Homo sapiens: one gene and its partners. Each later gene encodes a partner of the first gene's protein in a complex. Each region holds a gene or a part of one and is shown in the gene's direction. Other genes may lie near its edges.

The links.
Region 2: the proteins of TGFB1 (region 1) and ITGAV are in contact, whole or in part, in a crystal structure (PDB 5FFO), measured with the Homo sapiens proteins. Residues at the interface, in NP_000651.3 of Homo sapiens: Gly242, Arg243, Arg244, Gly245; in NP_002201.2 of Homo sapiens: Asp178, Asp180, Phe207, Tyr208, Gln210, Ala245, Asp248.
Region 3: the proteins of TGFB1 (region 1) and TGFBR2 are in contact, whole or in part, in a cryo-EM structure (PDB 9FKP), measured with the Homo sapiens proteins. Residues at the interface, in NP_000651.3 of Homo sapiens: Arg303, Lys309, Trp310, His312, Tyr368, Tyr369, Val370, Gly371, Arg372, Lys373; in NP_003233.4 of Homo sapiens: Phe47 (codon at 460), Leu50 (codon at 469), Phe53 (codon at 478), Asp55 (codon at 484), Ser72 (codon at 535), Ile73 (codon at 538), Thr74 (codon at 541), Ser75 (codon at 544), Ile76 (codon at 547), Cys77 (codon at 550), Glu78 (codon at 553), Val100 (codon at 5,973), Asp141 (codon at 6,096), Glu142 (codon at 6,099).
Region 4: the proteins of TGFB1 (region 1) and ITGB6 are in contact, whole or in part, in a crystal structure (PDB 5FFO), measured with the Homo sapiens proteins. Residues at the interface, in NP_000651.3 of Homo sapiens: Pro70, Gly71, Pro72, Glu75, Leu158 (codon at 2,584), Asn237, Gly245, Asp246, Leu247, Thr249, Ile250, His251, Met253, Asn254; in NP_000879.2 of Homo sapiens: Ser142, Ala143, Ser144, Asp146, Asp147, Pro196, Cys197, Ser199, Ile200, Pro201, Tyr202, Lys228, Lys231, Ile232, Ser233, Ala234, Asn235, Ile236, Asp237, Thr238, Glu240.

What each region holds. Positions count from the first base shown.
Region 1 is NC_000019.10:41,343,410-41,350,922, reverse strand, and holds part of TGFB1 (transforming growth factor beta-1 proprotein preproprotein), read left to right. Parts: intron 1-2,467; coding exon 2,468-2,628; intron 2,629-6,058; coding exon 6,059-6,176; intron 6,177-7,513. UniProt on the Homo sapiens protein: Transforming growth factor beta-1 proprotein: Precursor of the Latency-associated peptide (LAP) and Transforming growth factor beta-1 (TGF-beta-1) chains, which constitute the regulatory and active subunit of TGF-beta-1, respectively.
Region 2 is NC_000002.12:186,585,530-186,593,388, forward strand, and holds the start of ITGAV (integrin alpha-V isoform 1 preproprotein), read left to right. Parts: upstream 1-4,526; 5' UTR 4,527-4,809; coding exon 4,810-4,994; intron 4,995-7,859.
Region 3 is NC_000003.12:30,644,332-30,651,844, forward strand, and holds part of TGFBR2 (TGF-beta receptor type-2 isoform B precursor), read left to right. Parts: intron 1-415; coding exon 416-584; intron 585-5,938; coding exon 5,939-6,129; intron 6,130-7,513. UniProt on the Homo sapiens protein: Transmembrane serine/threonine kinase forming with the TGF-beta type I serine/threonine kinase receptor, TGFBR1, the non-promiscuous receptor for the TGF-beta cytokines TGFB1, TGFB2 and TGFB3.
Region 4 is NC_000002.12:160,196,925-160,204,687, reverse strand, and holds the start of ITGB6 (integrin beta-6 isoform a precursor), read left to right. Parts: upstream 1-4,415; 5' UTR 4,416-4,624; coding exon 4,625-4,685; intron 4,686-5,429; coding exon 5,430-5,509; intron 5,510-7,763. UniProt on the Homo sapiens protein: Integrin alpha-V:beta-6 (ITGAV:ITGB6) is a receptor for fibronectin and cytotactin. It recognizes the sequence R-G-D in its ligands. Internalization of integrin alpha-V/beta-6 via clathrin-mediated endocytosis promotes carcinoma cell invasion.

The sequences.
Region 1 (7,513 bases):
ACCCTTCCTCTCCCTCCTCTCTGTCTTCCTCCCTATCTGTCTTCCCCAGCCAAGGCTCTGCCTTTCCTTTGGGGTTTGCTGAGTAACCTCCGGGCCAAGAATAGGGCTTACTGGGGCTGGGTGGGGAGGGAGACTGGGGAGGAGGAGGAGGATCGAAGGGGGCCGTAGGGGAGGGGTTTCCTCTGCCTTTCTCACCAGTCTCTTTTCACACCCCCACTATGGGAGGCTGGAAGCAGTTGCCCCAGTTGATCCAGCAGTTCATGGCCTGTTCCCTCATCCCCATCCCCAAACTTTTCCTAAACTAGAAAATACCTTGGCTGGGCGCGGTGGCTCACGCCTGTAATCCCAGCACTTTGGGAGGCCAAGGTGGGTGGACCACCTGAGGTCAGGAGTTGGAGACCAGCCTGGCCAACATGGTGAAACCCGGTCTCTACTAAAAATACAAAAATTAGCTGGGCGGGGTGGCGGGCGGCGCCTGTAATCCCAGCTACTTGGGAGGCTGAGGCAGGAGAATCGCTTGAACCTGGGAGGCAGAGGTTGCTATGAGCCAAGATCGCGCCACTGCACTCCAGCCTGGGCGACAGAAACTCCATCTCAAAAAAAAAAAAAAAAAAAGAAAAGAAAACACCTTAATTCCTTTTCTCCCCACTACAGCCATTCCTACCCAGAATGAACTTCACTTTCCCTAACCAGCTGGGGAAGGGAGTTAAGGGTGGAAAACTAATAATAAAAATAAGTAGAAGAATCACTTAGGGGTTAAGAGCACAGTCTCTAGCTGGGTGGGTGTGGTGGCTCATGCCTGTGATCTCAACATATTGGGAGGCTGAGGCGTGAGGATCCCTTGAGCCCAGGAGTTCCAGCCTGCCGTGAGCCATGGTTGTGCTACTGCACTTCCGTCTGGGGGACAGAGTGAGACCCTGTCTCTTGGGGGAAGAAAAAAAAAAAGCACAGTCTCTGGAATGAGACAGCTTGAGTTTGAATCCCAGTCTGCAGCTATGTGACCTTGGGGCAAATTACTTAATCTCGGTGCCTCAGTTTCTCATCTATTAAACGGGTATAATAATAGTATAAGGTTGTGAGGTTTAAATGTCTTCATCTTTGTAAAGTGCTTTAGATAGCATCTGGTAAATAGCGCTGTTTTGTGGTTTTTTGTTGTTGTTGTTTTTGAGACAGAGTCTTACTCTGTCACCCAGGCTGGAGTGCAGTGGCGCAATCTCGGCACACTATAACCTCTGCCTCTCAGGTTCAAGCGATTCTCATGCCTCAACCTCCCAAGTAGCTGGGATTAGAGCCGTCCGGCACCATGCCTGGCCAATTTTTGTATTTTTAGTAGAAACGGGGTTTCACCATGTTGGCCAGGCTGGTCTCGAACTCCCGACCTCAAGTAATCAATCCACCTCGGCCTCCCAAAGTGCTGGGATTACAGGCGTGAGCCACTGCGCCCAGCCAGCACTCTTAGACGTATACATGATTGAGTGACCAGTGTATGCAGAATTGGTGCCACATGGCTTGACCTGGGTCATCTAATTTCCCACTATAATACTGGAATGGGTTCTAGAGTCACTCTGTCTTGTCTTACACCTGGCTCAGAGAGAGGAATTCACTTGCCCAAGGTTACACAGCGCTTAAATTAGGAGAGTCTGTGTGGGAATGCAGGGAGCTTAATGTTATTGCTGTTTTTCAAAGAATAACAGGAAACTGACATTCAGAAAGAGGGTGTTAACTGCCCATGGTCACACAGCCAAGAGGCAGCAGAGGCACTATCTGAGTCCAAAGCCTGTGCCTTTGATCCTTACTCTGCATTTTAGGGGCTCTTGCATTTGGGGCAAGGAAGGCCAGAGCAAACAGAGTGGTTCCCCTTGGTGCCAGCCTTAGTCGACTTGAGAGATGATGCTACATGAGAGAGGAATGTGGTTAGGACCTATTTTACAGAGGAGGAAACAAACCTAGGGGGAGAAACCACTTCCTCAAGGTCACACAGCTAAAAAGTATCACAGTCAGGGCTGGGCGTGGTGGCTCACACCTGTAATCCCAGCACTTTGGGAGGCCGAGGCGGGTGGATCACGAGGTCAGGAGATCGAGACCATCCTGGCCAACATGGTGAAACCCCATCTCTACTAAAAATACAAAAATTAGCTGGGCATGGTGGCATGAGCCTTTAGTCCCAGCTGCTCGGGAGGCTGAGGCAGGAGAATTGCTTGAACCCTGGAGGCGGAGGTTGCAGTGAGCAGAGATTGCGCCACTGCACTCCAAGCCTGGGTGACAGAGCGAGTCTCCGTCTCAAAAAAAAAAAAAAATTCATTTAAATAAATAAATAAATAAATAAATAAATAAATAAATAAATAAAAGGTATCAGAGACTGACTCCACCCCAGAGCTGTCAGCTCCAAAACTCCTAGAGTTGGGAGCACCAGCTCCCCTCACCTCTGCCAAACCCCTGATCGCCTCCCTTCATTTCTCCCTGCTAGAAATCTATGACAAGTTCAAGCAGAGTACACACAGCATATATATGTTCTTCAACACATCAGAGCTCCGAGAAGCGGTACCTGAACCCGTGTTGCTCTCCCGGGCAGAGCTGCGTCTGCTGAGGCTCAAGTTAAAAGTGGAGCAGCACGTGGAGCTGTACCAGGTGAGGACATGAGCCAGAAGGAAGGTCAGGGCATGGGCTGGAGAGGGTGAGCTGTGACCAAGGGGGTGGCTGTGGGTCGGCTGGTTACAAGGTCCACCTAGATGGTCCCTGAAGGATAGAAGAACACAAACCATACAATCCTAGAACGCTTTTTTTTTTTTTTTGAGACAGTGTCTCACTCTGTTGCCAAGCTGGAGTGCAGTGGTATGACCTCAGCTCACTGCAATCTCCGCCTCCTGGGTTCCAGTGATTCTCCTGCCTCAGCCTCCCAAGTAGCTGGGATTACAGGTGTGCGCCACCACGCCCAGCTAATTTTTGTATTTTTGGTAGAGATGGGGTTTTACCATGTTGGCCAGGATGGTCTCGATCTCCTGACCTCGTGATCCACCTGCCTCGGTCTCCCAAAGTGCTCAGATTACAGGCGTGAGCCACTGCGCCTGGCCTCTTTTTTTTTTTTTTTTTTTTTTGAGATGGAGTCTTGCTCTGTCGCCCAGGCTGGAGTACAATGGGGTGATCTCGGCTCACTGCAACCTCCGCCTCCTGGGTTCAAGTGATTCTCCTGCCTCAGCCACCCGAGTAGCTGGGATTACAGGCATGTGCCAACACGCTGGGCTAATTTTTGTATTTTTAGTAGAGACAGAGTTTTATCATGTTGGCCAGGCTTGTCTCAAACTCCTGCCCTCAAGTGATTCTCCTACCTGAGCCTCCCAGAGTGCTGGGATTACAGGTGTGAGCCACTGCACCCGGAACCTAGAGCACTTTTAAATGTTCAGACTCTTTGCATCCTAGGATGTTAAACACTTAGAAGGCTGGAATCTTAGGAGTTGGACTCTTTAAGGACACAGGATTCTTGAAAGTTGGAATCTCTGAAAAGGTTGGGGGCTCTAGAATCATTCTGTCCAATATGACAGCCACTAGTCACATTTAGCTTGATTAAAATTTAAATTGTTTAAAATTAAATTAAAAATTTAGGGCCAGGCATAGTGGCTCACACCTCTAATCCCAGAACTTTGGGAAGCCGAGGCAGGCAGATTGCTTGAGCCCAGGAGTCCGAGACCAGTCTGGGCAACATGTTGAAACTTCGTCTCTACAAAAAATACTAAAATTAGCCTGTTATGGTGATGCGTGCCTCTAGTCCCAGCTACTCAGTAGTCTGAGGTGGGAGGATTGATTGAGCCCAGGAGGTCGAGGCTGTAGTGAACTGTGATTGCACCACTGCATTCCAGCCTGGGTGATGGAGCGAGACCGTCTCAAAAATATATATATATAGGCCAGGCGTGGTGGCTCATGCCTGCAATCCCAGCACTTTGGGAGGCCAGGGTGGGTGGATCACTTGAGGTCAGGAGTTCAAGACCAGCCTGGCCAACATGACGAAACTCCATCTCTACTAAAAATACAAAAATTAGCCAGGTGTGGTGGCAGGCACCTGTAATCCCAGCTACTTGGGAGGCTGAGGTGGGAGAATCGCTTGACCCCAGGAGGTGGAGACTGCAGTGAGCGGAGATCATACCACTGCACTCCAGCCTGGGCAACAGAGCGAGACTCTGTCTCAAAAAAATAAAAATGAAAAAGAAATCCTCATTCTCACTGGCCATATTTCTAGTACTCTATAGTCACATGTGGTTAGCAGCTACTATTTTGGATGTTGCAGATAAAGCACATTTCCAGAAAGTTCTTTAGGACAGCACTGCTCTAGAAGATAGGGAGCTTCCAAGAGGACTGGGGCATCTGGAAGGGCTGGAGGCTCTAGCAGTTTCTATGAGCTAGAATCCATATCAGAGGGAATGTTAACTCATAGGATGGTAGATTTCAGACTTTCACAGTGAGAGAACTTTGTCCTATGTTAGCTTGGCTTCTTGGAGTCTGGGGAATTCAGCTTTATTCTGCAGTCCCTGGAGTGGACTATCCAGCCCCAGAAAATTCTTCTTTTTTTTGTGTGTGTGTGTGATGGAGTTTTGCTCCTGTTGCCCAGGCTGGAGTGCAATGGCACCATCTTGGCTCACCACAACCTTTGCTTCCTGGGTTCAAGCGATTCTCCTGCCTCAGCCACCCGAGCAGCTGGGATTACAGGCATGCACCACCACACCTAGCTAATTTTGTATTTTTAGTAGAGACGGTGTTTCTCCATATTGGTCAGGCTGGTCTCGAACTTCTGACCTCTGGTGATCCACCCTCCTCGGCCTCCCAAAGTGCTGGGATTACAAGCGTGAGCGACTGTGCCTGGCCCAGAAAATTATTCTACACAGATGTTGGGTACCTGCAGCATCTAGGTGCGGCATGGCAGACTCTTGGGTTTATAGAACATTAGTCTTCTAAAGCTTCTCAGGCTCTAGAAGTGGAAATCTTGGGATATTATCAAACATTTGAATCACAAAATGACTTTTTTTTTTTTTGAGACAGAGTCTCACTCTGTCACCCTGGCTAGAGTGCAGTGGTGCAATCTCGGCTCACTGCAACCTCTGTGTCTTGGGTTCAAGTGATTCTCCTGCCTCAGCCTCCTGAGTAGCTGGGATTACAGGCGTGTGCCACCACGCCTGGCTAATTTTTGTATTTTTAGTAGAGACGAGGTTTCACTTTGTTGGCCAGGCTGGTCTTGAACTCCTGACCTCAGGAGATCCACCCGCCTTGGCCTCCCAAAGTGCTGGGATAACAGGCGTGAGCCACCGTGCCCAGCCGGAATCATTAGAAATGACTTCTAAGTTACTGAGAATTCAGGGTGTCAAATTTGCAGAACCGTATGCTCAGTAAACCCCAGAATGTTTGCAGCAGAATTTTATTTTATTTATTATTATTATTTTGAGACGAAGTCTCGTCCTGTCGCCCAGGCTGGAGTGCAGTGGCGTGATCTTGGCTCACTGCAGTCTGTGTCTCCCGGGCTCAAGCAATTCTCCTGCCTCAGCCTCCCAAATAGTGGCGACTACAGGCGTGTGCCACCATGCCTGGCTAATTTTTGTATTTTTAGTAGAGATGGGGTTTCACTATGTTGGCCAGGCTGGTCTTGAACTCCTGACCTCAAGTGATCCACCCACCTTGGGCTCCCAAAGTGCTGGGATTACAGGCGTGAGCCACTGCGCCCGGCCCAGAATGTTAGCAGCAGAATTTTAGCATTGTGGGCTGTCCACGCTGAGTGGGGCTTAGCATTTCACCAATGAGGAAACAGGCCTCGAGAAGGCAAGAAAACACCTTCGGCTGAGCTGTGTGAAGGTGACTTGACCGCAGCCTGAGCTTTTTCTCCACCCCTCCTCTCATGGGTACTGTTGGGGAGGATGGGTGCCACAGGACCACACAGGTGGCTGTCTGAGAGGGTAGTGCCTGGGAACTTTCTGGAAGCCTGTTTGGGGAAGCAGATGGGGTGAAGGATTCAGTTAGTGTATGTGGGGTCGTGACACCATCTACCCACTGTCTCTCTCCTGCCTTCATCATCCTCTAGAAATACAGCAACAATTCCTGGCGATACCTCAGCAACCGGCTGCTGGCACCCAGCGACTCGCCAGAGTGGTTATCTTTTGATGTCACCGGAGTTGTGCGGCAGTGGTTGAGCCGTGGAGGTGAGGATTACTTGTGTGTCCCACCCCTGTTTCTCCCTGGGGTCCACCCCATTGTTTGTCCTGGGGTCACTTTGCCTAGGACCCCTCTCCGCCCCATACTGGTGTGAAAGTGCTGAGACCTGGCTCCCCTCTGTGGCATGGAAACCTGAGTGATTGGCTAATCTGTTTCCTGAGCACCTCTCTGCCCTGCCCTGTGATGGGTGATGCCAAGGACACAGCAATGACCAAAACAGCCCCATCCTTGCCCTCACAGAGCTCATATAGTCCATTGGCTAGGTAGCTGGGGAACAGACCTGTAAGGCAGTGATGACCCAGAGTGGGTGGGACTGGGATGGGGAGCCCAAAGGAGGTACCTGACCCAGCCCAGAATCAGGGAGGGCTTCCTGGAGGAGGGGCACCATAGCTGATGTTGAAGGGATGAGTAGAATGGTCAGGAAAAGGAGAGGTGTAAGAGTATTCTGGGGCTGGGCATGGTGGCTTATGCCTATAATCCCAGCACTTTTGAAGGCCAAGGAGGATGGATCACTGGAGCTCAGGAGTTTTGAGAGCAGCCTGGGCAACATGGCGAAACCCGGTCTCTACACAAAAATACAAAAATTAGCCATGCATGCTGTTACGTGCCTGTAGTTCCAGCTGCTTGGGAGACTGAGGTGGGAGAATCACCTGAGCCTGGGAGGTCGAGGCTGCAGTGAGTCATAATCACACTACTGCAATCCAGCCTACATGAAAGAGTGAGATCCCATCTCAAAAAAAAAAAAAAAAAAAAGATTCCAGGCAAAGGGAACAGCCTGTGCAAAGGCCTGGAGGCCAGGGAGAGCCTAACTAACTCATTTGATCTGTCCAGGAGATGATTGTCTCTGTCTGGTTTCTGGCAGGGCCCATGGTGCCCCTATCTCTCTCCCTCACCTCCCTCTCATTTATGCTTTTATTCAATAATTGCCCACAGGTTCCTGCTGTGTGCCTGGCCATGTGCTGGGTGGTGTGGGGGACATAGTGATAACCAAGACAGCCCTCAGTTCTGCCCTCATGGGGCCCACAGTCACTTCTGGACACCTAAGAGATCTTGTCAAGGCCCCACCAGGCAGGAATGACCTAGAATGATCAAGAATGGGATGGGGAGGCACCAGCAGGGAGGACAAGGCTGGGACAGGGAGGCATGCAGGATGGGGGAACGCCCTAAGTGCTGTTGGGAGCCCAGAGAAGGCACCTGGACCCATCTGGGGAGTCTAGGAGGGCTTGCTGGGTGAGGGTGATTGTGTGGAGACTCACAGGATAAATAGTAGTTTGGCCACATGAAAAAAAAGGGATTAGGGGGCCTGGCATGGTGGCTCACGCCT
Region 2 (7,859 bases), on another chromosome or scaffold:
CATTGTGTATGTTTGTATATAACAGAAGGATGGAGGCTTGTGGAAAATGGTTACAGGCAGAACTAATGTTGCCCAGGAAGATGGAGCCCTTTGAGCAAAGATAGCACTCTGGAGAAAAGTTAAGTTATTTAATATGGCTAAAGCTCCTTTGTGAGGTGGGAAGTGTTAAGAAATGAGAGTTGAGAGCATGACAATGCATAAGATCACCCTGAGGAGAACTGCAGTGATTCAAGAACAGAGACTTAGGGAATCCTAGCATTGAAGGGGTAGTTTAGGAAACATGGCCCAGAAAGGTAACAAGTTTACTGCCTGCCTTCTCTTCTTTCCCATTCACCCAAAGAGCAGAAGTGCTGGCCAGAATCTTTTCTGATACAGATCAGATAGGAAAGGGCAGCACTGGGAGTGGAAGTGGTTATGGGGGTGAAGAGAGAACAAGTCAGTCTCCCTAATAAACAGCCAAGAGAGGAGTGACAGGAGTGAGTTAGACAAGCAAACAGCAACAAAAATTCCAGGGCAGGGTTTAGTGGGTTAAAGTCTCCAGAGAAATTGAGAGTAGAAGAAGCAGATTTCTGAAGTTCCCATGGGTTATTAACTGAATCTCCTTTGAGGTTCTTTGAGAGAGATAAAATTTGAAATTCCTCTTAAATTATGGACTAAGTTCCTTTGTTTGCAGAGACAGAGCTGCGTGAAGCCCTGGTTTGATTATGGTTATTGAAGGACCTGTTGGACAGACACTAGGGGAACTAAGAGAGTGAAATAATAGTCATAAAAATTTACGGCAGGAGAATTGCTTGAACCCAGGACGCGGAGGTTGCAGTGAGCTGACATGGCGCCACTGCACTCCAGCCTGGTGACAGAGTGACACTTTGTTTCAAAAAAAAAAATTTATTATTGCTACCATGCTAAACTATTAGTCTTAAAAGTATTAATGGCAACAAGAACTGTTCAATTCTAAGAGATAGACATAGTATTACTCCCCTTTCCCTTTCATAGATAAGAAAACTGAGGCACAGATTGGTTGGATTGATTTCCCCAGGGTCATACAACTAGTAGTTGGCAAAGCCAGGAATGGAACCCAGGTGCTTTATTTTACAGAAACCACTGGAATCAAGATTTTTACTAAAGTATAGGGTAGTAGAGGATAAAATTCAAAGTACAAATTCTTTTTACTATCTAATATTTTATTTTCTAAGAAAAGGATTATATTCAATGAATACTTAATGTATACACAGAAGTTCTCCTTTTAAGTTGGAAAACTGTTATAATGTAGTTCAAAGAGTAGTGTCATGGGGGTAGGGGAGGGGCACCACCATTCTTTCGTAGACTAAAACATTCTTTTCTCTGTCCCATGCACATAGTACCAGGTGCAATGTGGATTTTGAATCAGCACTAGCTGAATTGACATGTTCTACAATACAATTTGCAAGGCACTGTGTGAGTGGCTGCTCGAGCATGGTCACACAAAGAGATGCCTGCATTTATAACCCCAAGTTTCTAAAGCCACTGGGTTAGTCTGCTTCATAGTTTCCTAATTGAAATGTATGTTTGCTTTTTTTTGTTGTTAGACAGTCTCGCTCTGTCACCCAGGCTGGAGCACAGTGGCCCACAATACCACAATATCTCGGCTCACTGTAGCCTCTGCCTTCCGGGTTCAAGCAATTCTCCTGCCTCAGTCTCCTGAGTAGCTGAGATTACAGGCACACACCACCATGCCTGGCTACTGTTTTTTCTTTTTTGAGATGGAGTCTCATTCTGTCATCCAGGCTGAAGTGCAGTGGCACGATCTTGGCTCACTGAAACCTCTGCTTCCCAGGTTCAAGTGATTCTCCTGCCTCAGCCTCCCAAGTAGCTGGGATTACAGGTGCCTGCCACTGCACCCAGCTAATTTTTGTATTTTTAGTAGAGATAGGCTTTCACCATCTTGGCCAGGCTGGTCTTGAACTCCTGACATCGTGATCCACCCACTTTGGACTCCCAAAGTGCTGGGATTACAGGTGTGAGTGAGCCACTGCGCCCGGCCAATTTTTGTATTTTTAGTAGAGACGGGGTTTCACTGTGTTGGCCAGGCTGGTCTTGAACTCCTGACCTCAGGTGATCCACCCACCTCGGCCTCCCAAAATGCTGGGATTACAGGCATGAGCCACAGTGCCTGGACTATTTGCTTTTTTAAAAAAAACAAATTCCTTGATTTTCAAGACTGCTCATTCAAAATAAACTCATAAAGAATGGCTCAACAGTAAGTGCTTTCAGTAAGTTGTAGCCCTATTTGGGGGTGTGTTGTTCACCCAAGTTTTGGTGGGTGTACATGTGTTGTCATTTCGTGGGCTTCTTCTTTTCCCTGGTCCTCTCACATTTCTTCACTCCACCTTGGTCTGTCGGACCCCTGTCCTGCGATCAGAAGTTGAGGAGTGGGAGACTTACTGGATCTAGCCAGAGTTTAAACTCTTCTGTCTTCCTTACCTGGATGGATTTCCAGGTAGACTGGTTGTCATGTTTTTAAGATATAAAAGACCCTTTGGGTTTATGCATACATATCAATAGCCTCTTTGGTGTATTAGGAAAGAAGGTGAGAAATAAGCTGTATTTGCATTTATGTGTAAGGATTTGTGTAGGATTTCTTCTCTCAATCAGTAATTTCTTTCAGGCAGATGCTAGACCATGCCTTGTAAAACATGCCAAAGGTTTTGCTGCATATCTTTTAGTCAAATTTAAAAATGGAAATATTTAATGCATTTTTTTTTTGAGATGGAGTCTCACTCTGTGGCCCAGGCTGGAGTGCAGTGGCACCATCTCAGCTTACTGCAGCCTCCGCCTTCCGGGTTCAAGCAATTCTCCTGCCTCAGCCTCCTGAGTAGCTGGGACTGCAGGCGCATGCCGCCACGCCCGGCTAATTTTTTGTATTTTAGTAGAGACGGGATTTCACTGTGTTGCCCAGGCTGGTCTCGAACTCCCGAGCTCAGGCAATTTGCCGGCCTCAGCCTCCCAAAGTGCTAGGACTACAGGCATGAGCCACCTCGCCCGGCCTTTTTTTTTTTTAAACACAGGGTCTTGTTCTGTCACTCAGGCTGGAGTGCAGTGGCAGGCTCATGACTTATCATAACCTGGAACTCCTGAGCCTAAGCGATCTATCTACCTGCCTTAGCCTCCGGCATAGCTGGGACTACAGGCATGCACCACACTCCCAGCTAATTTTTAAATTTTTGTAGAGATGAGGTCTCCCTATGTTCCCCTGGAACTCCCGGTCTCAAGCAATCCTCCTGCCTCAGTCTCCCAAAGTGCTGAGATTGCCAGCATGAGCACCTGGACCTGGTCCAATAAATATTACAAATTCGAATTAGGCATTTCACTTTCATTTATATACATATCCTTTCACAGGATTATTTGATAGTTATTAATGTATATTATGATTGAGTTTTAATAGTTACTTTGGGAAAACAGAAATTACTGTTCCAGTACTTACTTGTAAGTTGTAAGTCCACACAATGCACTTAAACTTCACCTTGTTCAACAGATTCTGTAGCACATGAAACACTTGAAATATGGAAGAGTCACTTCTCTGGGCACTTTGCTCATTTCGTCTGCTATTCATTCACTGATTGGACATTTTATTGATCGACTACTATCTGCTTGGCAAGGTGCTAGAAATAAGAACACTAAGAAAAAGGTCAAGGTTCCTGTCCTCAAGGCCCTCTCTCTCAGTCCAGTGTTGTCAAGGCTTGATGAAACACACCAGTGGCAAACAAGCACGCGGGGCCTTATTTCACCGGTGTGCGGTCCTTCTTCCAGCTCTGAAATTATGTCTATCCAAACATCCTAAATCAACAAATCAGTGTTTCTAAATCATACAACCGCAGCTAACAAACTGGGAATAAGGCTTCGATTATTCTGACTTGATTTAAAACGATCACTGCCAATTCTTTGCCCTGCGAATCCTTTCTTTGACTACTAAGTTAAGCTTTACATACCTCACTTGCAAGAGGCTATGCTGGCTTTCTGGAAATCCGTAATTAAGTTCAGTGTTTGTGGAATGGAGTGTAATTAACGACCATTAATTAACAGGGTTTCGTTCGTGAGAGCCTGCCAGGCTAAGCAGCAGAAACACGAGAAACTGATAAAAAGCTTTCCTCATTTTTAAACAACAGTCGCACGGAAGTTCCCGGCGGGACAAGGGAACGTGGGTGCCCTTGCTACTCCCGTGGACGCGGGTAGATTGGGACGCTGGACCGTATCTCCCCGCCCCCGCCCCCACGCCTCCTCAGGTGCTCAGCCTGAGGCCTTCGTCCAGGAGCGCTGCCGCTGACCCAGGCTCAGGAGCTGGGGGCCCCTGCACAGACGCCCAGGTCTCGGGACAGGCGGCGACTGCACTCACGGAAGTACGCTGAGCTCTCCCCTGTAGAAGGGCGCCTCTCCTCCCCCACTTCCTCCTCCAGCTCCACAGCAGCCTCCCGGGCCGGCTCCTCCTCCTTCCAGGTCTCCTCCCAGTGCCGCCGCGGCTCTCAGGCCTGAGGTGCGGCGCTCACCCCGGCAGTCCCCAGCCTCAGACGCTGCGTGGAGCGGCGGAGCCGGAGGGAAGCAAAGGACCGTCTGCGCTGCTGTCCCCGCCCCGCGCGCTCTGCGCCCCTCGTCCCTGGCGGTCGCTCCGAAGCTCAGCCCTCTTGCCTGCCCCGGAGCTGTCCCGGGCTAGCCGAGAAGAGAGCGGCCGGCAAGTTTGGGCGCGCGCAGGCGGCGGGCCGCGGGCACTGGGCGCCTCGCTGGGGCGGGGGGAGGTGGCTACCGCTCCCGGCTTGGCGTCCCGCGCGCACTTCGGCGATGGCTTTTCCGCCGCGGCGACGGCTGCGCCTCGGTCCCCGCGGCCTCCCGCTTCTTCTCTCGGGACTCCTGCTACCTCTGTGCCGCGCCTTCAACCTAGACGTGGACAGTCCTGCCGAGTACTCTGGCCCCGAGGGAAGTTACTTCGGCTTCGCCGTGGATTTCTTCGTGCCCAGCGCGTCTTCGTAAGTGGCCGCACTTGGAACTGGAGCCGGCCCCCTCCCCCACCGCGCGCACCCACCCAGCGTTTCTCCATTGGGATTGATTTCCGAGAGATCCCGGCGTCTGTCTGTCTCACCCATCCTACCTCTCAGAGTGGTTTATATCCTGGGTGGAGGAAATATTTGGGGAAATGAACTCCCTTTGGTACCCATCACCCAGTTACACCCCGCTTCTCACCTCTTAAAATTGGTTAGGGGCAGCGGGAGAGCTTTGAAGCAGACCTGTGCTTAAAAATCGGGGAAAGTGGGAAATCAACAAAGGCTGGTCTTGCCGGACTCCCCGCCTCCTGTGCCAGTGTCGAGGATTTGGTCAATATCATCCCCGAACTTCTTTTTCTCCTCTACCAGTTAGGCTTCTTGGTAGCCTTTTTCTGCTTTACAGGCTTAACGCCCGTCCTTTTCAGTCTCCCTAAACAAGCCCTCCCCCACTCTTTCCGCCTCTGTCTGATTCTGTTTCTCCTTACTCCTTTTGCAGACATTCTGATGACTTAAAATGACCATACTGTCCTATTGAATTCATTGTGTCTTATCTCTGGGACTGTCAGACATTTGCACATTTGAGGTTGAACAGATGAATTGAATGTGTCATCTGTTCTTTTTATAGTGATTCACTATTTAGGTCATTGTTCAGAAGGAACAAGGGTGTTTGCTGAGTTTTCACTCGCTGCAGGTCATTTGAATACTGCAGTATTTAATAATTCAGTTATGTTTTCAAGTTGCCAACGTTCCGCGTTGCAAGGGCCGTCAGGATTTATAACAGTTATTGCCATTATTGTGTTAGAAATTGTCTCCGACTTTACTGAATGCTGACATCATTCTCACCACCCCACCCCCATGTTAGCGTTAGGAGTACTGTTTTAATGAATGTTGACTGTTTTTTTAATGATGTTTAAATCTTGTTTTCAAGAGAGAAACTGTTCTTAGGGTGCCTTCTAAACGCTTAGACCTTGTAACAACATATTTTTGTTTCCATATTTTCTGTATAAGATATCCCTTCGGGGTGAAGTGGAGGAAAATTTTGACGGTTAGTACGTGGATAGGACCATCTTCTACTACACACATGCCTAATTTGAGGGTGGTCTCAATGGTTTTCTATGACTGTTAGGACACTCAGCAGAATTTAGTCTTAGTGTTTTTCTGAATGTTACTGAGTATCATTCATTTTGGTAACAACCTTTGCAGCAATACATAGATTAGATGCAGTTAATGGAAACTTTGTTAGTGGAGACATTATTTTATGTAGCAAGCTTAGTTTTATTTGTTGTTAGCAGTTACAGTGCTTTCTGTGAGACCTGGAGCACAGATTTTCCAACATGATAAAAATAATCATTATTTAGGCAACATTTACCAATTTCACATTCCATTTAGTCATTTTAGTCAGCATTATCTTTTTATTTATTGTTTTTAACCACAGGGGTGAATACCAAACGTTATCTTTAAACATTTTTGTTTCCAGATACTTTCAAGTGTATACCTTCATGAGACAGAACATTTTAGTTGCTCCCAAGGGTTCAATGTGAGATATAATTTGTAGAGAAATTCTAATGATTTTGAAAATATATGTCTTCAGTCAAAAATTAGCATTTAAATACTTCAGGCCAGGCACAGTGGCTCACACCTGTAATCCCAGCACCTTGGGAGGCCAAGATGGGCAGATTGTCTGAGCTCAGGAATTTGAGACCAACCTGGGCAACATGGTGAAACCCTGTCACTACAAAAAAATACAAAAATTAACCGGGCATGGTGGTGCACACCTGTAATCCTCGCTCTGCGGGAGGCTGAGATGAGAGGATTGCTTGGAAAGTTGAGGTTGCAGTGAATGGAGATTGTGCCACCACACTGTGGCCTGGGCGATAGAGAGAGACTGTCTCAGAAACAAAAACAAAATCAAAAACAACAAACAATAACAACAACAAAATAAAGTTGATGGCAGTGTTTTACAATGTTACTGTTAATTCTTCAGCAGTGCTCTGAGTTTAGTGTAAGATAAATGAGAGGCTGATAAACTTTAAGTGTTTTTTTTTTTTCCATGAAAAATGCAGTGATGTTGAACTCTTCATGATATTTGCTACTGCTGATTACAAACCAGGGTGACTAATCTTTGGCCAGTCATTATAATCAATGAATGTGTTATGACCTCACAGGTTTACATGACTTCACTCATAGACCTTTAATGATAAAGTAAAATTGAACTTGGGTTTGGTTGCATATAATATTTTGAAATATTCATCAGCAACTTTGTTACCGATAGACTACAGAGCTCTAGGTATAGGTAACTTAAAAAATGGAAACCAACCTTGAATTTTTTTCTTTTTTCTTTTTAAACAAAACGTATATAAACACAGGTTTTTACTTACTGAGCTTTTCAGATTTAACAAAAATTTATGTAAAATTTTGCTGAATTTTCTAGAAGGGCACTTTAAATTTAACAAGCATTGGAATCCAAGGTACTTGGGATGCCATTTCCAATATTACCAGTTGGATTTATTGTTATTTGGTATTACCATAAACTTTTAAAAGAAAAAAAGCCACATAATGAAAAAGTATTTGTCAATTCAAGAGCGCCTTTCTTCTGAGGGGAGAAGGATTTGTGAGGAGCAGTGGTTGTGACGTCCACTCCTGTTGCTTTTTCCAGTTTTGGTGTCCACATACCTTGGGGAAGCTGTAGAATTATTTTATGCCTAATTTTTCTCTTTATAGAAAATTATTATTGAATTATCTGCATAGTTCATAGTTTTGTTGTGAAAATTAATGAATCAATATTTATTAAAGGGAAGGACAAAGTACTAAGCAAAATGTTAAGGCGGCCCCTCAAAAAATCACTCCAGA
Region 3 (7,513 bases), on another chromosome or scaffold:
GGGTCACCCTGACTTGGTCTGTTTCCTGTCTTATTCACCAGCTAAACTATAATTTCCTTAAGGGTACTTTTATTTGTGGGCCCAGCACTCCGTACTATGCAGTGGGCCCATCTAGGTTTCTTTATTGAATGATAAGATTTTTGTAGAAAGTGGACCTTATGACAACCATTGACAAAAGCAAATGGCTACTCAACCACCCCAACCCCTCACCACCCCTCACCACGGTACAATGGATTTTATTACAAATTGCATACACCAGATAATTCTAATCTGATGTGAAGGAATTATTTTGCCTTTCTTCAGATTCATTCTCATGACATCAAGTTCATTTGAAATTGCATAACATCTTCAGGAATTCATTGGCAGGCTGCCTGGCAGTTGGATAATCATTTAATATATCTTTCTCTCTCCTCAGTTAATAACGACATGATAGTCACTGACAACAACGGTGCAGTCAAGTTTCCACAACTGTGTAAATTTTGTGATGTGAGATTTTCCACCTGTGACAACCAGAAATCCTGCATGAGCAACTGCAGCATCACCTCCATCTGTGAGAAGCCACAGGAAGTCTGTGTGGCTGTATGGTAAGCAAGCCTTTTAAGAAGTTATTCTTTCTTTTCCCCTTTTTACATAATGTATTCTCATAGTACACACAGTCAGTGTATCTCTGTCTCCTAAATGTAAACACCTGTTCCATTTCCCTTTCCTTTAGACCATCTCTCTTTCGATTATTAAATGTAGTTTCTAGGGGTGTTCTCTGCATGTATGTGTACGTTTATGTGGGTATATAAACGTATCATGATTATAAAATGATCATGATAAATGTAAAGATCATAAAATGATCTTTAATATAATAAATCTGGAAACTCTTTCTTGTATCAAGAAGAGGGATTTGCCGCTTAGTAGTCATTTAACCGACACCTCCTCAGCACCCCATAGTGAGACCAGGAGCTTTGTTCTCTTGAGGCAATCTCAGGTCTGGAAGAAGAGGTGATGAAAGGTTGGCTGTTGGAAGAGAAAACTACCAGCCAAAAATGGGGAATCTACTTGGAGAACCACAAAAACAACCTGTTTTTTTAGTCAGAAATTCTGGTTATATTATTCATATAACCATTGGGATAGATATGACTTCTTTCTCTCAGCTCAGAACTACATATTTCTTTTTTTTTTTTGAGATGGAGTCTTGCTCTGTCATTCAGGCTAGAGTGCCATGGCACAATCTTGGCTCACCGCAACCTCCACCTCCCAGGTTCAAGCGTTTCTCTTGTCTCAGCCTTTCGAGTAGCTGGGATTACAGGTGCCCACTACCACACCTGGCTAAGTTTTGTATTTTTAGTAGAGACGGGGTTTCACCATGTTGGCCAGGCTGGTCTCGAACTCCCGACCTCAGGTGATCCACTCGCCTCTGCCTCCCAAAGTGCTGGAATTACAGGCATGAGCCACCATGCCCGACCAGAACTATATATTTTTATCGGATCACATTTTCTCCTCTCTCTCTCTCTCTCTCTCTCATTCCCTCCAACTCATACATACATCTCAAATAATAATTATACATACACAGTGGATACTCATGAATCATTTGATTAATTCATGGTTATAGATTGTGAGCATGAACAAGAAATAACCTTGATCTTTAGAAGAGTTGTAATTTTACAAAAGTACATAAATTCATTAATGAGATATGACATTTTGCAGACTTATTCTGATGTTTTTAATTTATTGGCCATTTTAAAAAAAGTAACTTATGTGTCTCCTGGCTAGTTGACAAACAAGAATATAAACCCAAATATCTCTCCCCCTTTTTTGGGAATGAGTCATTTGAGACCCCTAGACCATGTAAAGCTAGCCTTGATGATAGATCTGGAAACCTTGCAAACTTCTGTACATACCACGGGATGAACTGGTTTCTTAAGAACTGAAGGAATGTTAACAGCAAAGACTTGTCATGACATACTTGCCAATATGATATGATACCTGTCCATGTCCACTTCTAGGTAACGCTTTCAAAGAAAGGATTTGGACAAAGAATGTGTTCAGAGGAGAGGGACCAGTGTGGTTAGAGGCCTAGAAATCATGCTGTCTGAGGAATGGCCTGGGCAATTAGACATGGTTAGTACAGTGAAGAGAGATCGTGGGTTCTGCTGATGAAATTGAAAGGCTCTCAGGTAGAAAATATAATAAACATATTCTGCATAACTCTGAAGGGTAGAGGGAGGATCCATAACATTTGCAAGGCAGGCAGACTTGTGCTCAGCATAAGTTTAGACATTTTCACAATCATGGTTTCCCAACAGCAGAACAGGCTTCCTTTTCTGTAAGCACCAAGTGAAGTTCAGGAGAGGCTGGATGACCATATGTCAAATAGAATGCAGGAAAGATTGAGACACCAGACTAGATGGCCTCAAAGCTTCCTTCCGTGGTTTCTTAAATATCTACGGTGGTGTGAGCACTTGCTTTTGCAACCCAAAAAGGCTCTTTTAATTAAGATTTTTGTTTTCCTGACCAGTAATACAAGCCCAAATCATTAAATGTGAATCAAGTCTCTCTAGAATAGAGGCTTTGCTAGCCTCAAAAAAATGTGAGCATGTCGAAGAGAGGAGGCCTCCCTGTCTTTTCTGTGTCCCAGCTATAAAGGGTAAATACAATGAACATTATTTTGACCTGTGCTGGCCAAAGAAAATTCTCCCGTGAAGCCAGGGGTGTTGATAATGAGAAGGGGAAGTATAGGGTACGCTATAGTGCCCTCCTTGATCCTCCTTCATGACCAAGGCACTCATTCCCTGGGAGTGTTGGCTGTTGAAGGATCACTGCTGAGCCTTCCCTCCAGTGATGGGAGCTGCCTCATTCACGTTGGACACTTTTCATGGGTAGCCATCATCCCATGGCTAGTTGATGCAGAGAAACAAATTCCTGGTTATTTTGCCATAATGTGGTACATCTTTGAAGGACATCCCATTTTCAGAGTTTCCAAGGCATTCACTGAGGCCTTTGCTGCAACCTGCATTATAGTTTAGCTTTTTCCTTCTGTGCAATACTGTTGCCTTTAGTCGCTTACAGATGCATCTCCAAAAACCTCCTGCACAGAACTCTCACAGCCTCAAGGTCTGTTTCCAGGAAACCTAAACTAAGACAGGAGGCTATTGTAAAAATAGCCAGTGTGGAAACTGAAAGGCTCTACTATGATTGTAGATTTCAGTGTTGTTGTTTTTTTAATCAGTTTTAGTGTTTTTTCATTCATTCATTCATTCATTCATTCATTTAACTAATGTCAGTTGTGTGCCCATTCCATATAAAATGCTTAAGCTGCCTCCAAGGATAGAAATATTTTATAACCAAAATTATTATTATTATTATTTTTAAATTGAGAGGGAGTCTCCCACTGTTGCCCAGGCTGGAGTGCAATGGCGTGATCTGGGCTCACTGCAACCTCTGCCTCCCGGGTTCGTGCGATTCTCCTGCTTCAGCTTCCTGAGTAGCTGTGATTACAGGTGCACACCACCATCACGTGGCTAATTTTTTGTATTTTTAGTAGAGATGGGGTTTCACTGTGTTGGCCAGGCTGGTCTCGAACTCCTGACCTTGTGATCCGCCTGCCTCGGCCTCTGAAAGTGCTTAGATTACAGGCATGAGCCACCGTGCCCAGCCTCCAAAATTAATTTTATCATGTTGGTTCTTCTTTCAGTGGAAATTGACAACCTCTTCAGTGGCTCAGAGCAAATGTTGCAGGACAAAAAAAGAAGTCCGTATTTACTTCTTTGTATTTACCTTTCCTATGCTCAGCTATATCCAAAAAGAGTTTGAAAAGTTAGCTGTGCCTGGCTGTTACAGGAGTGAGTGGAGAAAGCAGTTAAGGGCTTTACCAGGTCTCAAGTATTACAGTTGTTTTCTCTCTGTGATGTTAGTTCTCTCAGTAGCTAAGAGGTAGAAAACCGGAGGCTCTGGAAGAGCTGCCCAATAATTATAGAGCAGCTTTCTTTCATGGCTCACAGTTCCTTCTTAGGCCTCTATAAGCGTCACAAGGAAAAGAGACCATGCCTTTCTGTGGGCACAGCATACCTTCGTTTTATTACCCAAACCAAAAACAACCTACACACACACACACACACACACACACACACACACACACACACAAAACTGTGGGGGCAGGGAGGAAGGTGTTCTTGTTCCATGACTACAGCTGATTTGAAGACTGCCAAGTAGCTTTGGGGTTAAAGATGGGTAGATTTCCAAATTATACATCATTTGTTGTATGATCATGCCAACTTTCATTTAGTTTCATTTGGTGTCCTGATAGCCACCCTCAACCAATTATTCTGCTTGTCACTCTTCCTGTCACAGCAGGGACCAACTTAGCAAAGCCTTGCTCCTCTTGTGTCTTTCGGAATTCTAGTTTAAGAACCCTTGAGCCCCTTCACAAGCAGACACATGTACCTCCACTGGAGTCAACTCTGGGCTGCATGGATGTTGACACTGGCACCATTCCTGCCTGGATTGTCCTAACCCATACCCTTGCCCTTATCCCTTTGTCAACATATTGTCCTTTAATGTCCTTGACTTAAGCACTAAAAAAGTGGTATTGGTCAAAGTTGCTCTTTCTCTCATGGGGATGGCCCCGCATCTTTTATAGGTGCAAGCTGTGTCTTAGCTGCTTCTTGCTTCTAGCCTGCCTTCCGTTTTCCTTGCTGTGAGCAGTGAGCCTTTGTGCATGGGGCAGGGAGGATTAGGGGAAAATTGGTGAGTGAGTACATGCATGCATTGGCTCATGTGTGCACTCAGAATCTTCATAGAAGATTACTCTAGCAAAACTGACTGGACCAGATTAGCCCTTCCTTCCGCTCCCTCTCTAGACAGAGAGAATGCGATTCAAGACAACAGGTATTTTGCATCTAAAAAGGACAGAGGTGAAAGGGTGGATGTCAGACTAGCCTTGTTGGACAGTCATCCAAGATAGTATGTTCATGAGGGAGCAGAGGGAGGTAGATAGAGAGGTGATACCCTTTTCCAAGAGAGCCAAAATGTTCTTTTGTTCAATTATAATAGTGGGCATTAATCATGTTGTTTAAAAATCTAATGTACACTGACGGCCAATTGAGCATTTCCTAGGGCCCAAGGAAAATGCTATGTGAGAAATTCTCTGAGCCCTGGGCTAAATTAGTCTTCAAATATGTGCTATGAAGTGATACTGTCAAAGTAGTTAGTTTATGACAGCATAAAATATTTCATTGAACTGTAAATGAAGAACACCCTGACATCCCTTTCCATTTCTTTTATTTATTTGTTTTTTTTGTTTGTTTGTTTTTTCTGAATTGCTCCTTTCTGTAATTTGGGAAAGACTGCAGTTCTTTATCTGCGATGTTTCTTCCCGTTTTTCTCAGCAGAACCAGCTGTTGACAAGGAGTATACCCTTTACACGCAATGCTCTGGGGCCCAGCAAACAAAAAAAAGAGGAACTGTGACTATTTCCCCAGGCATGCTCTTTGAAAACAGTATAGCTAGACAGGACAGATTTTGCCACTTAAACTAGGGGTGTGATGTGAGGTTTGCATTACATTCAGGATGGAAGATTTAAAATTATCCTGAGTACCTAGGAATGTTCTTTTTTTCCATGTCTTCCCCTTTAATGATTTAATTAAGACTTAAATATGTAAAGTTCTCCACCAGGACTGCCCCGTGGAACGCTGTCTGCTCCAGGTGATGTTTATAATCACAAATGGGTTCCAAGAATAAACAAAGGAAAAACAGAAAAGAGTAGAAAAGCATAGGAGACTATAGGACAGCCTGCGAATGCTGGAGAACAGGAACCAGCTGCCGTTGTTAGGAACAACTTCATGAAGGAAAAGTATTCCAGATTGCCTTTCTGTCTGGAGGCCATATTATTCATTTATTCTCTTTCTCTCTCTCCCTCTCCCCTCGCTTCCAATGAATCTCTTCACTCTAGGAGAAAGAATGACGAGAACATAACACTAGAGACAGTTTGCCATGACCCCAAGCTCCCCTACCATGACTTTATTCTGGAAGATGCTGCTTCTCCAAAGTGCATTATGAAGGAAAAAAAAAAGCCTGGTGAGACTTTCTTCATGTGTTCCTGTAGCTCTGATGAGTGCAATGACAACATCATCTTCTCAGAAGGTGAGTTTTCTTCTCTTAAGGGTGTGGGACCTGAGATCTGTGCCAATTTTTTGTATCCTTGGTCTGCAGTGTCATAGAGCACATTCCTCCTGTGGTGGATTGCATACAGTGGATTAGGAGCTCATTCAGCTGGTGGAAAGAGGGGCTTGGGGAGTAGCAGGGTTTGTTCTGGTTCTCATCAAATATGGTTGACTGGGGCAAACATTATTATTTGTCTTTGACAAATAGTTTCTTTCACCTAGAGCAGTGTTTCTCAAAGTGCGGCCTCTTGAGCAGCCAGCATCAGTATCACCTGGGAACCTGTTATAAATGCAGATTCTCAGGCCCCACTAAATGAGAAACATAGAGGGTGAACCCCAGCTATCTGTATTTTAACAAGCCCTCCCAGTAATTCTGTGCAGCTAAAATTTGGTAACTATTGTTCTAAAGATTTGGATGGGGTTGTTTAATCTTGGAGGAGGACTTTCTTTATAACTGATGTTGTTTCTTGTACATAGTCCCAGGATTTGTCTTTAGGGTACTTGTCATCGATCCCATTTGAGAGAAACATTGCAATACAGAGAGGAAATAATAAGCCAAAGTTTACCCCTAGAGCCAGGAGAAGAGTAGATTAGATACTAGCCTCCATCTTTGAAGTTCAGCGTTTACTCAGCTTGAAAGGAAGGCATACACTATTCCCTCAATTTTTAATAAGAAGAGAATTCAGTGGTTTTTAATTACAAAAGTAGTATATGCTCGTCATCAAAAATTTCAAACAATCCAACAGTGTGTGAAAATTAAAAATGAAAGTACATTTTCGTCCTCCCCTCACTCCCAATGCAACAGATCATCTGTATTGACAATGTATTAGATGCACACACGTCTCTATCATTCATTCATATTATCTCCCACTCCATCCTCTCTCCCAATCTCTCCCTGTCTTCCTTTCTCTTTCCCTCCTTTCATCCATCTGTCCATCCTTCCATCCACTCATCCATCTTTCAGTACAACTATCTGATCATACTATAAATATTATTTTGCAACACTTTTTTATACCCAACCACTTTTACAATTCCTTCTAAACAAGATAGAACACATAGATATACTGTACATCTTTTAATTTAGTCTCGAATTTCATATTATCTCCCACGATGGATCTTATCATGTCCCTGTTGATGGATTGTCTTCAGTTTTTCCACTTAATGCTACATTGAATATCTTTGTAAAAATATCTCATGCATTTGTGCTAATATTTCTGCAAGGCAGATTGCCAGAAGTGAAATTTCTAGATTAGAAATATGTGTATTTTAAATTTGAATAAGCACTACTAAACTATTCTCCTCCTGAAAAGGATGTAAGCATATGGATTTCCGTGTACCTTCTCCAACACTGGGAATGGATAAGT
Region 4 (7,763 bases), on another chromosome or scaffold:
GTCTTGCCCCTTGGTACAAATTAGCCAGCAGTCCCAAGGTGCAAACAGAGTGGATAGATATTCTTTCATAACATTATTATACTTTATATTGTCTCAAATTCCCCCCTGCCTTTTCTTTACGTTGCATTTTAAGCTTTTTCTCAGCTTTCGGCACAACCCAAGCAGGGAACACATTTTCCCTTTCCTAATTGTATTATTTACCTTCCTAAACCATTCTTTCATTTACTCATCTGTTTACTCAATATCCATGAAGTACCTGCTTTGTAACTGGTGAAATACTAGACAATGAAGACTTAAAATTCACCCATATTCTCAATATAAACATTAATTGACTACTTACAAAGTGCCAGGCATTGTGTTACTTGCTAGGAATAGAAAGATTCCTGAGACACAGTCGCTGTCTGATACATAGCAAGAATTGAATAAATATTTGTTGAGTAAAGGCAACTATTTTGACAATTACAAGCAGAGCAAAAATGGCTATTCTGGGGAATGTCCACAGGAGGGGAGGCCTAGAGAAACCAAAAAGTGTTTCCTGCAGACACTAATGTTTACACTGAGACCTGGAGGGCAAGCTGAATTAGCCAAGTGAGAGGCATGAGAGGCAACCCAAGGCCTGCAGGAAGAACAAATGGTTTGTGTGAAGGCCTGAAAATTAGGGAGGGTGTGCACTGGAGGGGCAGCCATGGGGGACAGAGAATAAATCAATCAGTGTGATTATGATTCTAGGACTGAGATGGAAGTCTTTATGTGGGATGGCACAAGTCCATTTAAATACATGGTCAAATTGTGGTTTTAGAGTTCTAGGACCTTGTTGCTGCCTGCATCTGGTTGTCAGAGGGACATGAGGATGATCTAGAAGGGGTATGTACCACTTCCACTCGTATTCTGTTGGCAAGAGCTGGTTGTTGGGATTTTCTTAGCTGCAAAACAGGCCAGGAGAGGTAGTCTAACTGTGTTCTCAGGAAGGAGAGATTGTTGGTGGCAGCTAGAACCATGGAGAGTTTCCAGGGATTGGCATATCCAGAGCTGGGCAGCCACCCCGATCCAGCTCCTCTAGAGTGCCTGCTAGCGGCTGCCAGGGAGGTCTATGGGCAGACAGGCAACTCAAGACCTGGGGAAACCTCTGGAGCCCAGGGCAGCACTTGTCAGTCCAAGGCAGTTTTGTAGGATGTAAGATCTTTTCTTCCAAAGTGAGGTTTGAAAGTTGCATGTTCAGTCTCCAGACAAAGGTGGATTTTGTGTGGGAAATTGTCAAGAACTATGAAGGGCCTGGGCTTTTACCTGACTTGCAAGCTGACAAGTTAGCTTGTCATGGATTTGTGGGTACTGATGGAGACATGCGATGCCTGCATCACAGAAAAAGAACTTTTTAATTATTTTTTTTTTTTAAGAACTTTTTAATTCACAGCAATTGCAGTGGTCAGAGTGTCAGCACATTCTTTCACAGTTCCCCAATACCATTTCCCACAAGATGACACAAAAGAAAGAGGTGACTCCTGCACATGTAGTAAGATGTGTTATAAGAGAAGAACTTTGAGTTTAGGGAAACTGAACCTTTTATAATGGGCAGTAAACAGGCCTACTCTTTGTTCTGCAGGTTGACACTGTCTCTATCTTCCAAAGCTGTAAGCAATTTTTCCTTTTCCCTAAAGAGGGACACTGTCTGTATTTTCAAAGGCCGTTCACTTTATAAACATCCTGGAAAAGAGAGTCTAGAAAAAAGGCAGCCAGGTCCTCTGCTTGTAAGATGTGCAGAAATGTGAGAGACACTTGAATTTGTCTTCCAACAAAGACAGGTTCCTCTTTAGCAAGATGAAGTGTTCTTTAGATAGAAGCTTCCTTTACTAAATCCTTCTCCTCTTGATCTACAGATATCTAGAGGCCCCAGGGCTCAGTCCTCAGAGCTCTTCCCTATATACATTCGCTTCCTGGAGGGATCTCATTCAGCCACATATCTCTGAACACCATCAGCCTCATATCTTTAAACCCATGCTGATAATCCCAAATTTACAGTTTGCTCTTTGACATTGCCCACATTTCCAGACCTAGATATCAAACCTGCCTATGTGGCATCTTCACTTGGTTATCTTCTAGCCATCTCAAACTTACCATGTTCTTGATCCTCATCCTCCACATGAAACCTGATTCTTCCTCAATGTAATCCCTCTCAGTAAAATGTATCACTCAGCCAGTACAATGTATCTATGCCAGACAGAAACCTCTTTCTTTCATGTTCACATCCAATCTATCAGCACAGTCCAGTTTCAAAATAGATCTTGAATCTGATCACCCCCTCCTCCTGCACCACAAACATCCTAGTCCCAGCCACGATTATCTCTGTTCTTGACAGAGACATGCATTCCTCTCTTGCCCCATTCACCTTCCAATCTTGCCGCATACATTTTCACTTCCTCAGCAGCCAGTGTGGTTCTTCTAAAATGTAAATTAAATAGTATTATTTCTCTACTTTCAACTTTCCAGTGATACACAAGGTATAGAATAAAATTCAAGGTCAAGACTACATATGATCTGACCTCTGCCCTCAAATCTGATTACCCTCTCTCTCTCCCTTCTTGTATTCCACTTGCCCTTGAAAACACCTGCCATTGGGCTGTCTCAGGCCTTCATAGTTAGCTGTGTTGTCAAAGTCATCTAGGGCTCTCTCAGATGCCAGTTGGTCAGGGAAACCCTCCCTGACTATTCTAAAGAAAATCACACACTCCCTTGCCCCTCTTTCCTTTTACCCAGACTTATGATTCATAGCCCTGGGCACTGCCTGATTTTAGAAGTCTATCTCCCTGCACTGCCCTCCAGCCTAGAATATATGCTGCATGGATCAAAAACTTGGTTGTGTTCACTGATGTAGCCTCTGCTTCAAAAATAATATTTGACAGAAAGTAAATGCCCAAGAAGTACTTGTTGAATGAATGAATAATGAATGAATAATAGTTAATACTGGATTTTTAAAATGACAATAACAGAGACACAAACAATTTGTGGCTCGATCTTTCTTCTTCAAGTTAAATCAACTAATTTTATATAAATTTTCTCTCAAAATGCATATCTTCCAATTCTTCAATAATTCTGGATTGTTACCGCAAAATTCTTGCCATGTTTTTCCAGCTTCTTGGATATGATGGAGTTCAAAATTGAACATAACATAGGCTTCTGAGAAAAGCCTAGGTAGTCTATAATTAGTTTCTCTCTTTCTTTGGTTTTTTTTTTTTAATTATTTTATTTTAGTTTTTATTTTTGTGGGTATATAGTCGGTGTATATATTTATGGGATACATGAGATGTTTTGGTACAGGCATGCAATGTGTAATAAACACCTCATGGAAAGTGGGGTATCCATCCCCTCAAGCATTTCTCCTTTGTGTTACAAACAACCCATTTATAGTCTTTTAGTTATTTTTAAATGTAGAATTAAATTATTATTGACCATAGTCCGTTTCCCTCTGTTTACAGGTTTCACATGCTTACCCAGGAATGCTCCTTGAAAAGATAATCTCCTCAGACATAAGCCTGGCCACAGAAAAGTCTCTCTAAGGTCAGCAGTTTCTAGAGTGACGAAGTGAGAATTCGATTCTTATCTGTTCACAGACTCTACAAATCTCAAAACACCTTCCTGAAGAACACCCTGGGGGAAAAATACAAAAAACCTCATGGATTTAGCCATAGATCATATATATTTTGAATTGTCACTCTTTCACTCAACAAATAAATATCTCCTATGTGCCAAATCATGAGCTAGAGGTTGGAACAGCACATTGCATAGAGAACTTGGTCCCTAGCCTGAGGGATTCAGAATCTTGGGCACCATCATTTCTGTTTTCATCATTGTTGTCATCAGTGTCTTTTGAGACATTCTTATTTTGATCTCCTTTGATTTTTATATATTATGATTATTTCCAATATAATTTTAAAATAAGAATTTTATACTTATGGAAAAATATATTTCATCTAATTTGAAAAAATAAGGAAACAGTGCTTTGCTTTCCCTAGCCTTCCTTCTCATTTACTGTAAGATAATAATTTTTCTTTTTCAGGGTTCGTTTCAATTTTTTGCAAAGGATTTAGCAATGAAACACTAAAATCTCAGGCATTTTCATTAAGCTCATTTTTTACTTTCCTCATATATAGCCTATATGCTTTATTTAATCTTTATTCTTTACATTAAATTAAAATTATTTTTAAAATGACTATATTTCTATTGCTGTTGTGACTTTTCATTGATCAATATTTCACTAAAGATATTAACTTTCTCTAGGATGCAGAGAGACTCATAGAACTTACACCAAAATTTCTACTGAATGAATTTCCCCACCTTCTTGGTGATTGTACACCTGCCTTCCTTATAAGGAGAACAAGGAAGTAAATCATGTTGAAGTTGCTTTTAAACACAGCTTTTCTGCTTTACCTGTCCAGGTAGCCTCTGTTTTCATTTCAGTCTTAATGAAAACTTTCTAACTTATATCTCAAGTTTCTTTTCAAAGCAGTGTAAGTAGTATTTAAAATGTTATACTTCAAGAAAGAAAGACTTTAACGATATTCAGCGTTGGTCTTGTAACGCTGAAGGTAATTCATTTTTTAATCGGTCTGCACAGCAAGAACTGAAACGAATGGGGATTGAACTGCTTTGCCTGTTCTTTCTATTTCTAGGAAGGAATGATCACGTACAAGGTAAGACCTGCGTTCTCTGATATATTACTTTCGTGGTATGCTTGACAAACCTGTCATTTGGTTCAGAAACTAGATCTGAAGTCATGTTTTATTTGATCTGTTCCATTGCTCTTTTGTGACTGAGTGAACACTTTAACAAATTACAGACAAACACCGGGCAGTTCCCACAGTGAATGCTCTAGGCTTAAGGTAAATAAATACAAAGGTTGCACAGGCATTTTAATGAGGAGAATTAAATAACATTACTGCCCAATGGAACTTAGTGCCAGTATGATAACCATTTTTGAAACTTTTCTATTTTATTCTACCACAAGATCTTCCACTTAGGAGTAATAATCTTGAAAGAGAAAGAGGATTTATTTCAAAAACAGAAATAACTTGTTTAAGAAAGAAGCATTTTTTAATGGTTGCAAGTAATTTTTAAAAATTAAAGTGGCACACATTGGCTAAGAATAATAAATAGGATAATCCTATATTTGTGAACTTTCACATTTTAAGAAAAAAGAGCATGATAATTTTGGCTTATAAGACATACATAATTTTTAATATACATACACATATTTTACATGTGATAGATGTAAAATACAAACTTTTATGTGAATTGCTAACATTTCGAGGACTGATTTTGGATACTAAACTAAACTTTGATGTTGTTTTGTTCAAGTAATGTAAGAGCCATCAGTCTCATAAATGGAATGACTGAAAGTGTACTTAATCCCTGCATCTTGCTGGGTCTAAACCTAGGTGGCTGTGCCCTGGGAGGTGCAGAAACCTGTGAAGACTGCCTGCTTATTGGACCTCAGTGTGCCTGGTGTGCTCAGGAGGTAAAATAAATGACCTCAATGTGTTTTTAAAACCTGTCTGCAGTTAAATTCATGTTAATTTCCTCAGTGATATTTCTGATAGTGACTTGCTTTTTTGTGGAGTTGTATAAGTAAAACAAATCAGGAAAGGAGAAGGTGAGCATTGGTAGATCAAAATGGCATTCATGTGATTACTTTCAAAAACAATTTGTAGAAGGAGTGGATGTCAAATAATTCGGAAAAAAATTTTAACTTGGGATTTTTTTATTTTACCTGGTTCCTTCTTTTATTGTAAAGCCATTTCTACAGGTTACATGTAAAATATGGAGGCTGTCTGGATAATCAGAGTTCATGGAGATGATATTTTCTAAAGTTAAACATACATTTGATGTTCATATTATAGTTGTATTCCCTCTGGGTACCAGGATCCATTCTGAACTACTGCTAGATTCTAAGGGATGTGTTTTAAGTTTGGGGCAAATATTACTGGTCAGATATTATCCAGTTCCTTTAAAAATGGCATTTTCATAAACTCAGTGACTCTGTACCACACCAGTGACAAAGTGCCAAATAGGAACTCCTTATCTGGTCAAACCGAAAACTACATGAAAGCAGTATGAAGATGATTGGGGACTATGTACCAAGCCATCCTAAGACACTAGAGAATGATGTCTAACTGATTCATGGTAAGGAAGAGAGGCATTAGCTTTCTGAATTTTAAAACAAGTCTCTATGCACTGGATCTCATAAAGATAATCTAAACATAAATCAAATCATACGAATACCAAGTGCAGCAAGAGCTGAGTAGCATGCTCAAAGAGCAACAAACCTCGACACCAAACTCAGAACTGGGTTCTACCTGTGGAAACCCAAACTCCGAGTTCAGTGTGTATCCATGAAGTGTGGCCTCACAGACAAGAGAGCACAGACACAGCTCAGTCCCTTACTACGGCCTTGACCAACGCGGCCACAAAAAAAATTCAAGAGAATTATGCTTTTTTTTAGTTCCTGTATCAAAGCAGGATTGAGAATATACAAGAAGGGAAAAAATCACATGTTTTTTGGATATTGACTTCTTGAAGAAGTATTAGTTTCATGCCAGAGAGATACAACAACAAATCAGCCTAGAATTTTCATTTAAATGCATTTTTCAGCATTTACTTAAGAGAGTTTCCTAAGTTGCTGCTGATAACTTTACTTGTGTATAATACTTGGTAGCCAAATTGTTGTCAAATTGTAAAACCAAATTATTCTAAGAGGCCACTCTAATATTAGAAGTAGTTATGAGGATGCCAGTCGAGGCAGTTGGAGCAAAAAGTAAATTAGGCTTCTGCTTAGGGCAGATAGAAAATAGGTCATGTGGTTAACACCACCTCTGATCTTCTGGCAAAGGCTATGAATAGAGGTGATAGCAATGACACTGTGTTGAGAAGGATTCTGAAGCCTTGGCCAGCCACTGTTTCCCTTGGTTACATCATGGGAAGTTACAGTTTGCCATGCCTGGCCTAGAGCTTCAGACACGCACAGGCCTACTGATAGATAACAAATTGTATTCTCAAAATCAATTTCAGAAGAAATCTAACTTTCCTAGTTGATGAAAACAGCAAGAGTGGCTTGGAGTTCTAAGAGGCAAGGAAAATAGTATGAGCATTGGTTTTGTTTTCTCTAAGCATGAAAGTCAATGGGCAACAAGTTCCCCTTTGCATAGTGTCATGCCCACTCTAAAGCAGCCACGCCTATCAGGTAAGACAGGTATTTAATCTATTAGCTCCATCTCCCTGTTTTGGGTGTTTCAGAATTTGAACGGCCACATCTCTGCTGGGAAAGACTACATCTCACTGCCCCTCTGCTATCCTTGTGGGAAACTCCTGTGTCCCACGCAGAAAAGCAGACTTTTTTTTTTTGAGACGGAGTCTTGCTCTGTCGCCCAGGCTAGAGTGCAGTGGCATGATCTGGGCTCACTGCAAGCTCTGCCTCCCGGGTTCACACCGTTCTCCTGCCTCAGCCTCCCAAGTAGCTGGGACTACAGGCACCAGCAAAAAGCAGACTTTTAACCCATCTTTTTCACTTTTCTTCCTCACTTTCAAATCTTGGAGAAAGTTATAAAGGATCTTGAACTAGGATACTTCAAGACTCTGGGTTTAAGTCCACAAGAGGTCAATTTAGGTGAAGTAATGCTGCAATATAAGGGTAACAGACCGATGCATACAACTGGCAGAGAGTGCTAGATGGGGGAGATGTTGCAATCCCTACCCTTTAGGAATCTGCAGAATCT